3 linked regions of the Homo sapiens genome follow. The protein of the gene in region 2 interacts with the protein of the main gene of each other region in a pairwise test. Each region holds a gene or a part of one and is shown on either strand. Other genes may lie near its edges.

Region 1 (2,956 bases), on a different chromosome or scaffold from region 2:
GTCACCAAGTCAAAAGCAGCAGCGCGCACGCCGCCTGGACTTGGGTCTGCGATCCTACTCACGCAGATGTGTTGCGCTCACGGATTCGCCTTGGTTTAAGGCCCGCCGTCTGGGTGCGAGCTTTCTTTGTTTTTAGCCCTTCCCGCCATTTTGGAAAGGGTAACTTGCAGTCTCTCCGCGAAGTTTCCAACTTCTGTAGTCTTTGAGAACCTTACGAACGCTTCAAGCTTAAACTGAAGGAGGAAGGCCCACGGGAATTATAAACTGTCACAATCCAGCTTACTCACTGATATCTAGTGTTAAAATGCCACAAGAAAGCTAAACATATTCAACATACCAACTTCCCTCAAGCAGAAAACAGTGGCTTTAAGTACTTTATGCCCAAATCCTAAACATGCGAGATTAAGCACGAGTAATTAAACGTTACCTGCAAATCTACACATGTGCACAGTAACTACTTCTCAGCAAAAATCTGGAACAAAGCAGGATAACAAGATGTCTGCTCTTTTATGAAAAAAGTGGGCGGCCCTGAAAAGGGCCTTTGGTTGAAAATGAAAATAAGAGTGCAGCAAGCAGGAGCCTTAGCCACCGAAGCCGTAAAGAGTGCGTCCCTGTCGCTTCAGCGCGTAGACCACATCCATTGCTGTCACGGTCTTGCGTTTGGCGTGCTCTGTGTAAGTGACAGCGTCACGAATCACGTTCTCCAGGAACACCTTCAGAACACCACGAGTCTCCTCATAGATAAGGCCAGAAATTCGCTTGACACCGCCGCGACGAGCAAGGCGCCGGATAGCTGGCTTAGTGATGCCCTGGATGTTATCGCGCAAAACCTTGCGATGACGCTTAGCTCCTCCCTTACCCAAACCTTTTCCACCTTTACCACGGCCAGACATGACTAAGCAACTTCTAAAACCAACTTAAGAAACCTAAACGCCAAGGCAAAGCAACGCCCTTATATGCCGGGAATTCGGACCTAATTGAAGACTGAAAGCGCGCATACCGGAACTTTGGTCCTGCTTCTTGGCCCCACCCCGCATAGCCCAGCCCTGGATGACGTCACCAACGACTCCAGCCTTTGGCATCTGAGCGCCGGCTCCGCGGAGGCGTCTCTTGCAATTGCTGGGAAATAGGAATGAGAGTTTTAAGGCTGTTTTAACAACCAAATCAGATTAAATAAATTAACATGTTTAAATTGTTATCAATTGTTCCTTCAGTTGCTTTAGGACGATTGGAGAGGAGCCTCGGTCCACAAGACCGGAAGCCTGAGGAGTGCAGCTTTGTCCCCAAGGTCACAGTGACTGGCTTTCTGCTGCCGGCTGTAAAGCACATGCGGACCGAAACCCCCCTTCGGAAGTGTTTGAAAACTGCAAGATTTCACCCTCTCCATCACCAAGCCAAGGGAAACATAACCAAAAGGGTTTTCTTCCCGATGGCGAAGGCATGATAGGTTAGTGATTCGTGGTAGAATTATTGCCCTCCGCGCGGAGGCCTGATTCTATTCCCAGTTTGTTCTCTTCTTTCCCTGCTTATTAAAATTTGTAATTGCCATTTAAATATCTAACTGCCCCTCACAACTGCACCCAGTGTGTAGGTTTCGGGGTGGGGGTTTTTTTTTTTCCTTTTTTTAATTTTATTGAGACAGGGTCTCGCTATGTTGCCTGCCTGGGTCTTCCAAAGTGCAGTGACTACAGGCGTGAGCTACCGCGCCTAGCCCACCAGTGTATTGATATTTATTTTTCTATCCCTAGTTTTGTTTTCTGTTTGATTCTGGTGATTCCTTTTTCCAAAGTGAGTTGGCAACCTGTGGTAGCCAAAGAAGTAGGCAACTGCTCGTAGGTTTTTTCTTAAATTACGAGGTAGTCTGAACGCATCTCCTGTAAGTAGTTAAGAGTACTGTGAGACCGTGTGCCTGGCAGAACAGCAGAGTGGCGCAGCGGAAGCGTGCTGGGCCCATAACCCAGAGGTCGATGGATCGAAACCATCCTCTGCTAGGTCCTTTTTTTTTCTCCCCCCCCGTCTATTTTCCTGAGGATCCCTTTTTTTTAAGTTACAGTTTTTTAGGTTAAACAATGACGAAAGAAAACAAAATGAACCCGAGTATTTCTTTAATTCCAGAATTACAAGCATTTCCGGGAAATAATGTGAAACTACAATCTCTGCATGTACAATTTTGATTTTCATGGACACCCAAGTGTCATTAATCAATATGTCATCTGTAAACAAAGCAAATTTCTCTTGTTTAGAGGCTATACCACTGTTGCAGCCAGTTATGACAGTTGTAAGTTAACCTGCCAAGCAAGGAGAATGCTTACATAAACTGAGTGCCAAGGGTGGGGTGGGGTGGGAGCCCAGGAATGGAGTTTTATATCTTTTGATACATAATTCAGAAAGCACTATTTGCCAAGTAGTTAAGGCAATCGACTAGGAATTCCTAAATCCCCACACAGATTCTTTTCACCTACAAGGATCTTAATCTCGGAAAATGAGTTGCATTTTGAGGTGGGTGTGGAGTCTTCATAGCACTGATTGAACTCTGACCTGAGAAAAACATTTTTGCGGACCCTACTGGTAAATGTGTCTCTACTCTCTACCATCCTTTAATATCTCAAATAGAACTATTCGCTGTGCTTATTTTTTAAACATATGTGTGGACTGCTTTATGCTTCTCTCTCTCAGAAAGGATTCCTATTCAGATATTTATGTGTCACATACTGTATTAGGAACTAAGAAAAAAAAAAAACCTTAAGTAGTCTACAGTCTAGATATGCTTTTGTTGTTTTTGTTTTTTGTTTTTTGTTTGTTTATTTGTTTTTGAGATGAAGTCTCACTCTTGTTGCCCAGGCTGGAGTGCAGTGGCACGATCTTGGCTCATTGCAACCTCCACCTCCTGGGCTCAAGAGATTCTCCTGCCTCAGCCTCCCAAGTAGCTGGGATTACAGGTGCCTGCCATCACACT
Region 2 (3,753 bases):
CGTCTTCCTGCAGGAAGGCCCCTGATAGGGGGCAGGAGAAGCAGCACATTACCAGGTTGTGCACCTGGTGGTGCCAGCCACTGGGCACAAACACCATCTCGCCCGCTTCCTGCGTGATCTCCAAGGGTGGGCCAGCAAGCTGGTTCCGTGGGTGCAGGTGTGTGTCGCAGAGTGCTGGGGAGGTCACGTCGTAGGGCAGGTTGCCGTGGCGGTCCCGCAGGGCCTCTTCCTGCCCTGGGGGGAAGAGGAGCCACTTCTTCCTCCCACAGACATTGACAGACCAGCTGAAGGAGCGGAAGATGTCAGCATGGAACGGGGACCTGCGGCAGCAAGAGCGCCTGGTTCATGCCTGTAGGGGCTGGTATGGGCTTTGCTTGGCACCCCAGAGGCCTGGTCCAACTGAAGGAGGGGTGGCCCCTTGGTCTCAAGGGATGGCACCCACTGTGAGGCCTGTGCCAAGCAGCCCCCCTCCTGCCACCCTGGGCCTCCCAGTCCGTTCTGTCACCAGGCCCCTTCGGGTTCCACTCCCACATCCGTGGCCTCACCAGCTGCCCGCAGGCCCCGCGTAGACAAAGCGGTAGTCATCCACATCCAGTGCATCCCAGAACTCATTCAGCCAGTCGGACGAGAAGTACACAGGCAGGGTGAAAACGTCCTCCACCGGAAAGTCCCTGTGAGGAGGGCGCAAGGGCACCACCGACAGCACGTGAGGCACGAGGAGACTAGGGCAGCACGAGTGGGGCAACTGAGACCAATCGGCTCCAGTGGAGCTTCCAGATGGCTGCAGCCCCCAAAGAGCCCCAGACCCTCCTCTGAGCCAGACGCTGCTGGCGGGGGAGGGGGCGGGGCAGTCTGACTACAATGGTTCTGCTTATTAGAAAGTACTGATCATGCCTATAATCCCAGTGCTTTGAGATGCTGAGGTGGATGCATCACCTGAGCTCAGGAGTTCAAGACCAGCCTGGGCAACATGGTGAAACCTAGTCTCTTTAAAAAAAAAAAAAAAAAAAAAAAAAGCCGGGAGTGGAGACGCCTTCCTGTAATCCCAGGTACTAGGGAGGCTGAGGAGATCTCTCTCAAAAAAAAAGGAAAAAAAACCATATTGACCTCCCAAAGAACAACACTTGCAGCCATGCGGAAGACAATCCAGTTTCTTTTAAACTGATTAAAGTGCCTCACGGGGAAAAATAGCTCCGTTGTGCACCCAGGGGCCACCTTCATCAGAAAGGCCTCTGGGTTCACGCAGCGCTAGGGAAGGCAGCGCCTCGGTGCGTCCCAAGCCCCATTACCTGCACAAGTGCCAGTCTTTGAGGTAGAGACAGCCCCTGGGAGAGGAGTAGCCCGCCTGTATGTACTCTTTCCAGTAGGTGATGTAGTCTCTGAGAGTCATGTGCTCTTTGGGGTTCGAGTTGTATTCCTGGACCCCACAGTTTGCAACTGGTACAACCACGTCTCCTGAAATGAAAGGCACGGTCCATGCCATCTCCCTGGGCCCCGTCCTCACTCCAAACCGTCTGCAGAGGAACTCTCCAGGGGCCACGCGCCTGGCCTCCCTCACCCTCCCTGGTGCCCCTCTCTAGGCGGGGGCCTCCCGGGCCTGGGTCCCGCCGGCCTTTCCTCCCCGCCCGGGGTCTGCGGCCGCCGCCCCACCGTAGGTCCGTAGCAGGTGGTCGAAGTCGGGCCTCCCCGCGGGCGTCACCCAGCGCCGCCGGCTGCCCCAGCCCTGCGTGAAGGCGCTGGAAAACACGCAGGGCAGGTTGGGCAGCAAGAAGCCCCGCACAAAGTCGGCGTAGGAGAAGGCGCCCGGCTCCGAGACGAAGGCTACCCGGCCCGGAGCCTGGCCGACGCCGGGGACATCGACCCCCAGGCCTCGGAAGTGGCTGTCGGCGAGGGCGCGCGTCTCGCGGTCCATCCAGCTCAGCACGGGTCGAAGGACCCTCCTCCTCACTTCCGCCGGAGCGGAAACGGTGAGGACCAGCCTCGGAACCAGAAGACGCAGGGCGCCGCGTTTCTGCCCCGCCAGCGCCTGGGGCTCCGGGCCTGCACGCATGCGCGCGGCTCGCCGCGGTCTTCACTGCGCAGGCGCCGAGCGGCCGAGGCGCCGCGGTCGGCTCTGGGACTCGTCTGGCGTCCCTCAGGTGAGCGACGGTGTTGGTCTGTTGGGCGCCCGGCCCAAGCCAAGCCGTAGCGTCCGCCCTCGGCTCAGTCCGCGCGCTGTGGCTGACACAGCCCGAGCCCTCCTTCCCGCATCCCCGGGGGGTGGGGGGTATGCGGGCTGCGCTGGGAGAGGGGCGGGGACAGAGGCGGTTCTGGGGGCGGGAGTGCGGCGGTGCGGGGGCGCCCAGGGATGATGGGACCCGGAGAGAACGGTGGGACCCAGAGGGAGAGCTGGGGGGCCCTGGGATGGTGGGATCTAGCGGAGATGGTAGGGTCCTGGAGGAGATGGTGGGGACCTGGAGAGGACGGTGGCACTTGGAGGGGATGGAGACGGGATCTGGAGGGGACGGTGGGACCTGGAGGGGATGGGGACAGTGGGGACCTGGAGAGGACGGTGGGATCTGGAGGGGATGGGTACAGTGGGGACCTGGAGAGGACGGTGGGGACCTGGAGAGGACGGTGGCACTTGGAGGAGATGGGGACATTGAGGACCTGGAGGGGACAGTGGGGATTTGGAGGGGACGGTAGCACTTGGAAGGGATGGGGACAGTGGGTTCCTGGAGGGATCAGTGGCACCTGGAGGGGACATGGGATCTAGAGAGGATGGTGGGGACCTGGAGGAAAATGGTGGGAGGGCTGGAGGGGGCAGGGTAACCTAGATGGGCGAATGGGGCCCACAGGGGACCTGGAGGGCATGGCAAGGGGCCCCAGGGGATGACGGGTGTCTGGAGAAGATGGTGGGGAATGAGGGAGGGTGTGAAATGAAGGTGTGGTGGGAGTGTGGGTAGGGATTTGGGGCTGTGTACACATGAGCAGGGCTGAAGTGGGAGGACATCGGAGTAGTGACATGAGGAGTGTTTTGCCAAACTTGCAACTGGAGTTACCCCAAAAGTGGCGGCAAGGGAGTTCCCCACACTATCCTCAGGTGGGACCAGTTGGGATACCAAAGAAAGAAGTGCTAAATGCATGGTAAGCCCAGAGCAGTTTTTTTTTTTTTTTTTTTTTTTTTTTTTTTTTTTGAGACAGTATGCAGTGGCACCATCACAGCTTACTGCAGCTTCCACCTCCTGGGCTTGATGAATTCTTTAATTCTGCTTCAGCCTCCCAAGTAGCTGGGACTACAGGCATGAGCCACTATGCCCAGCTTAGTTTTGTTTTTTTGTTTTTGTTTTTTTTTTTTTTTTTTGTAGAGACAGGGTCTCTGTGTTGCCCAAGCCGGTGTTGAACGTTTGGGCTCAAGCAATCCTTCTGCCTTGGCCTCCCTAAGTGCTGGGATTACAGGTGTGAGCCACTGCGCCAGGCCCTGCCTAGAGGTTTTGTTAGGGGAACTTTCATATAGAGTGGGCTGCGGTAGTCCTCGAGACGGGCAGTAAGGGAAAAGGGATGTCCTCCCTAGGTATGTCTCTTGGAAGGGGTGTGGGTTATGGAGTTTATAGGAAGGTTTCAGGAATTTGGCTCAGGGCCAAGGCCGTTTTCTTTGTAGTAAACCTAGATACTTTCTTCCATGCCTGGAAATGTTAAAGGCCCTGGATTGGGTTGAAGCCTGGTGGGGAAAACCTGTGGTTGGGGCACAGAGGGATCAGGGTACTCTGTGAT
Region 3 (3,298 bases), on a different chromosome or scaffold from region 2:
TACCTTAATGAGGGTGGAGGAAAGTAAAAAATTATCTTAAAATTCTTTAAGAGGTCGCACTTTGAGAGGCCAAGGCGGGCGGATCGCGAGGTCAGGAGATCGAGACCATCCTGGCCAACATAGTGAAACCCCATCTCTACTAATACAAAAATTAGCTGGGTGTAGTGGCGCAAAACTGTAATCCCAGCTACTCGGCAGGCTGAGGCAGGAGAATCGCTTGAACCCAGGAGGCGGAAGTTGCAGTGAGCCGAGATCGCGCCGCTGCACTCCAACTCGCAGACAAAGACGAAACAAAAAAAACCCACAAATACTTGTGGATTTGGAGGCTTTTCAAAAACGATTTCCGATTACCACTGTCAAGCTCACTACGGGGGTTACATAAACGTTTCTGGTACTGCACATTCTGTGTACGAGTATTTTCTCCATTACGTAAACAAGCTTACGAATTTTGAGCAAGTTTAGACATTACATCTCGTAATTAGTCCTGCCTACAGTGACCCCGGGTGAATGGCCACACGTGTGCCGCTGTGTTCAAAAAACTGTTCCCCCCAGAACTGACTCAGAACCAAGCAAAATTCCGTACCTACCAAAACCACTCCTCAGTGTTACCACTCTTCAGCTGAGAAAGTAGGGTGGCCCTGAAAAGGGCCTTTTATTGATAGAAAGGGACGCTCAACCACCGAAACCGTAGAGGGTGCGGCCCTGGCGCTTGAGCGCGTAGACCACATCCATGGCGGTGACCGTCTTGCGCTTGGCGTGCTCTGTATAGGTCACGGCGTCCCGGATCACGTTCTCCAGGAACACCTTCAGCACCCCGCGAGTCTCCTCGTAGATGAGGCCGGAGATGCGCTTCACGCCGCCGCGGCGAGCAAGGCGCCGGATGGCCGGCTTGGTGATGCCCTGGATATTGTCGCGCAGTACTTTACGGTGGCGCTTAGCGCCGCCTTTGCCAAGACCCTTCCCGCCTTTGCCGCGGCCAGACATGACGAGCAAGAGGAGTCTCACCCAACGCTTTGTGAGGCCTCTGGCCTGAGGCAGCGCCTTTATACGACAGTTGGCGGACCGAACTGAGAACCTGAAAGAAGTCGGCGGGAAGTCCCGCCCCGGTGGGGGAGGGGAAATCTAAAGGGCCAAACCGAAATAGGGGGGAAAAAAAAGCGAGCTTCTTGTTTCCGTGTTCTGAATTTTGTAATGTGCAAAGTATTCTGTTACCACGTTATGAGGCTTTAAAAAATTGCTTTTGAACGCAGAAGATATACATCAATACTGTGGGGAATACAAAAAAGTGACCGGGCTCGGTGGCTGACGTCTGTGATCCCACCATTTTAGGAGGCCGAGATGGGAGTGTACCTGGGCGTCAGGAGTTTGAGATCTGCGTGAGCAAAATAGCGAGACCCCATCTCTACCAAGACAACAATTAAATTAAATTAAAACATTAGTCCAGCATGATAGCGCTTACACTTTAGGAGACACTCTTTTTTTTAAATATATTAAAAAAAAAAACCAGTACAGTAACAACAGCCTGTTATCCCATCTTCCCATCACACAAAGAGCTCTACTGCTAGCTAATAAGATAATTTGGTGAGCAGATAAATGCACATTTTTTCCCACAAAATGTATGCAGTATATGGCATTTTACAACTTCGCGTTGTTTTAATCAATTTCCCTTATTTAAAAAGTTTACAAAAGTGATTTTAATGTCTTTATTATTTCTTCTCCTGAATTCTGCCTGCTACAGTGTTAACCAATTCCCTAGGAATTTATTAATCAACCAGATTTTTTAAATAATTCATCTTTTCCCTGCGGATTAAGTACCACCTTTAACATTATACATACTCGGAACTATTACCAAAATTCTATTCTGTCTATAATTTAATCAAGGTGGTTTGCCAAAGGGAATCTATGTTCACGGTTAAAAGCTTAGAAAATTCACATTAGGAAAAATTTTAAAAGCAGTAATTTATATCTGCTTAATATTCCATCATAAGAATTTTCTAGGTCCACTTTCACAGTATTTCTAGTACTTAGCAATAATGTGCTAATTTTCTTTTCCTAATTTAAAGGAGAACTGTACAAAATTTACTTCCTGAGGAAAATGTAGAATTGAAGCGCTTTGTCACAAAGGATGCAGATTTTAAGGTATTTTGATAACTGTTACTACATTTTCCTCAAAAGTTTTATTCCATTCACTTTTGCCAGCAGTAACTGCTGTGTATGTTTACCAGCATTGAGTATTATGGTTTTTAAATTCTATGTTACATTCAGAATTTACTTTTAGTTTTGTTGATTGAGTCTTGAGTTAATGAACTAGTTACCCAGCAAGATTTATTGATTTGTTTATAAGTAATAAATTGTCATCTTTAATATAAGCTTGTTTAGGCCGGGCGCGCTGGCTCATGCCTGTAATCCCAGCACTTAGGGAGGCTGAGGCAGGCAGGTCACTTAAAGTCAGGACTTCGAGACCAACCTGGCCAACATGGTGAAACCCCGTCTTTACTAAAAATACAAAAATTAACTGGGCGTGGTGTCACATACCTGTAATATTAGCTACTCAGGAGGGTGAGGCAGGAGAATCTCTTGAACCTGGGAAGCGGCGCTTACATTGAGCCGAAATCACACCACAGCACTCCAGGCTAGACAACTGAGTGAGACTCCATCTCAAAAAAAAAGAAAAGAAAAGAAAAGAAAAAAACAATAAGAAACCTAAAAATTTTATTTTTTCGTGTAAAAACTGGCCACAAAGAAATTATTTGACTTACCTTGTTTGACTGTAAGTCGTAGGACCTCCGTTCCAGAGAGGGCCCTGCCCCATATACAAAAGAAATACTACACAGAGCGCCCAAGAAGAATCTAGACAGGCCTGGCTGGGTTTCCCCACTCAGTCTCTTAGCATTAGATCATACACATTATGTCCAGTCATATTTCTACATAGCTGTCCATACTTTGTTGAACCTAAGCATAAAAATGGACAATTTCCCCTGTATCTTTAGGTCTTCATTCTGAAGGCTTCTGCGTACATGTTAAATAAATGTGTATGCCTTTTCTTCTATTAATCTGCCTCTTGACAGTGATTTTCAGTGAAGCTTCAGAGTACATAGGGGAAGCTTTCCCTGTGCCCCAACAAGTTCAATCATATGGTCAATGATTCAATCAATCCTGCCTATATAATAAAACCCTCATAAAAGCTCTGGATACCAAGGTCAGGGAGTTTATTGGTTTGTGAACACATAGATATCCTAGGGAGGTGACTCCTGGTTCCACATAGAGATGGCACAGAAGCTTTGCTTTCAGGACCCTT

The links.
Region 1: the proteins of JMJD4 (region 2) and H4C8 interact in binary tests that used the Homo sapiens proteins (3 or more experiments, as listed by UniProt).
Region 3: the proteins of JMJD4 (region 2) and H4C11 interact in binary tests that used the Homo sapiens proteins (3 or more experiments, as listed by UniProt).

The regions. Positions count from the first base shown.
Region 1 is NC_000006.12:26,284,607-26,287,562, forward strand, and holds H4C8 (histone H4), read right to left. Parts: upstream 929-2,956; 5' UTR 894-928; coding exon 582-893; 3' UTR 520-581; downstream 1-519. UniProt on the Homo sapiens protein: Core component of nucleosome. Nucleosomes wrap and compact DNA into chromatin, limiting DNA accessibility to the cellular machineries which require DNA as a template.
Region 2 is NC_000001.11:227,733,362-227,737,114, forward strand, and holds the start of JMJD4 (2-oxoglutarate and iron-dependent oxygenase JMJD4), read right to left. Parts: upstream 1,942-3,753; 5' UTR 1,913-1,941; coding exon 1,651-1,912; exon of another isoform or gene 1,456-1,650; coding exon 1,290-1,455; exon of another isoform or gene 672-1,289; coding exon 546-671; exon of another isoform or gene 321-545; coding exon 53-320; exon of another isoform or gene 1-52. Other genes in the region: SNAP47 (synaptosomal-associated protein 47), read left to right, coding at 2,049-2,138. UniProt on the Homo sapiens protein: Catalyzes the 2-oxoglutarate and iron-dependent C4-lysyl hydroxylation of ETF1 at 'Lys-63' thereby promoting the translational termination efficiency of ETF1.
Region 3 is NC_000006.12:27,821,811-27,825,108, reverse strand, and holds H4C11 (histone H4), read right to left. Parts: upstream 1,018-3,298; 5' UTR 985-1,017; coding exon 673-984; 3' UTR 629-672; downstream 1-628. UniProt on the Homo sapiens protein: Core component of nucleosome. Nucleosomes wrap and compact DNA into chromatin, limiting DNA accessibility to the cellular machineries which require DNA as a template.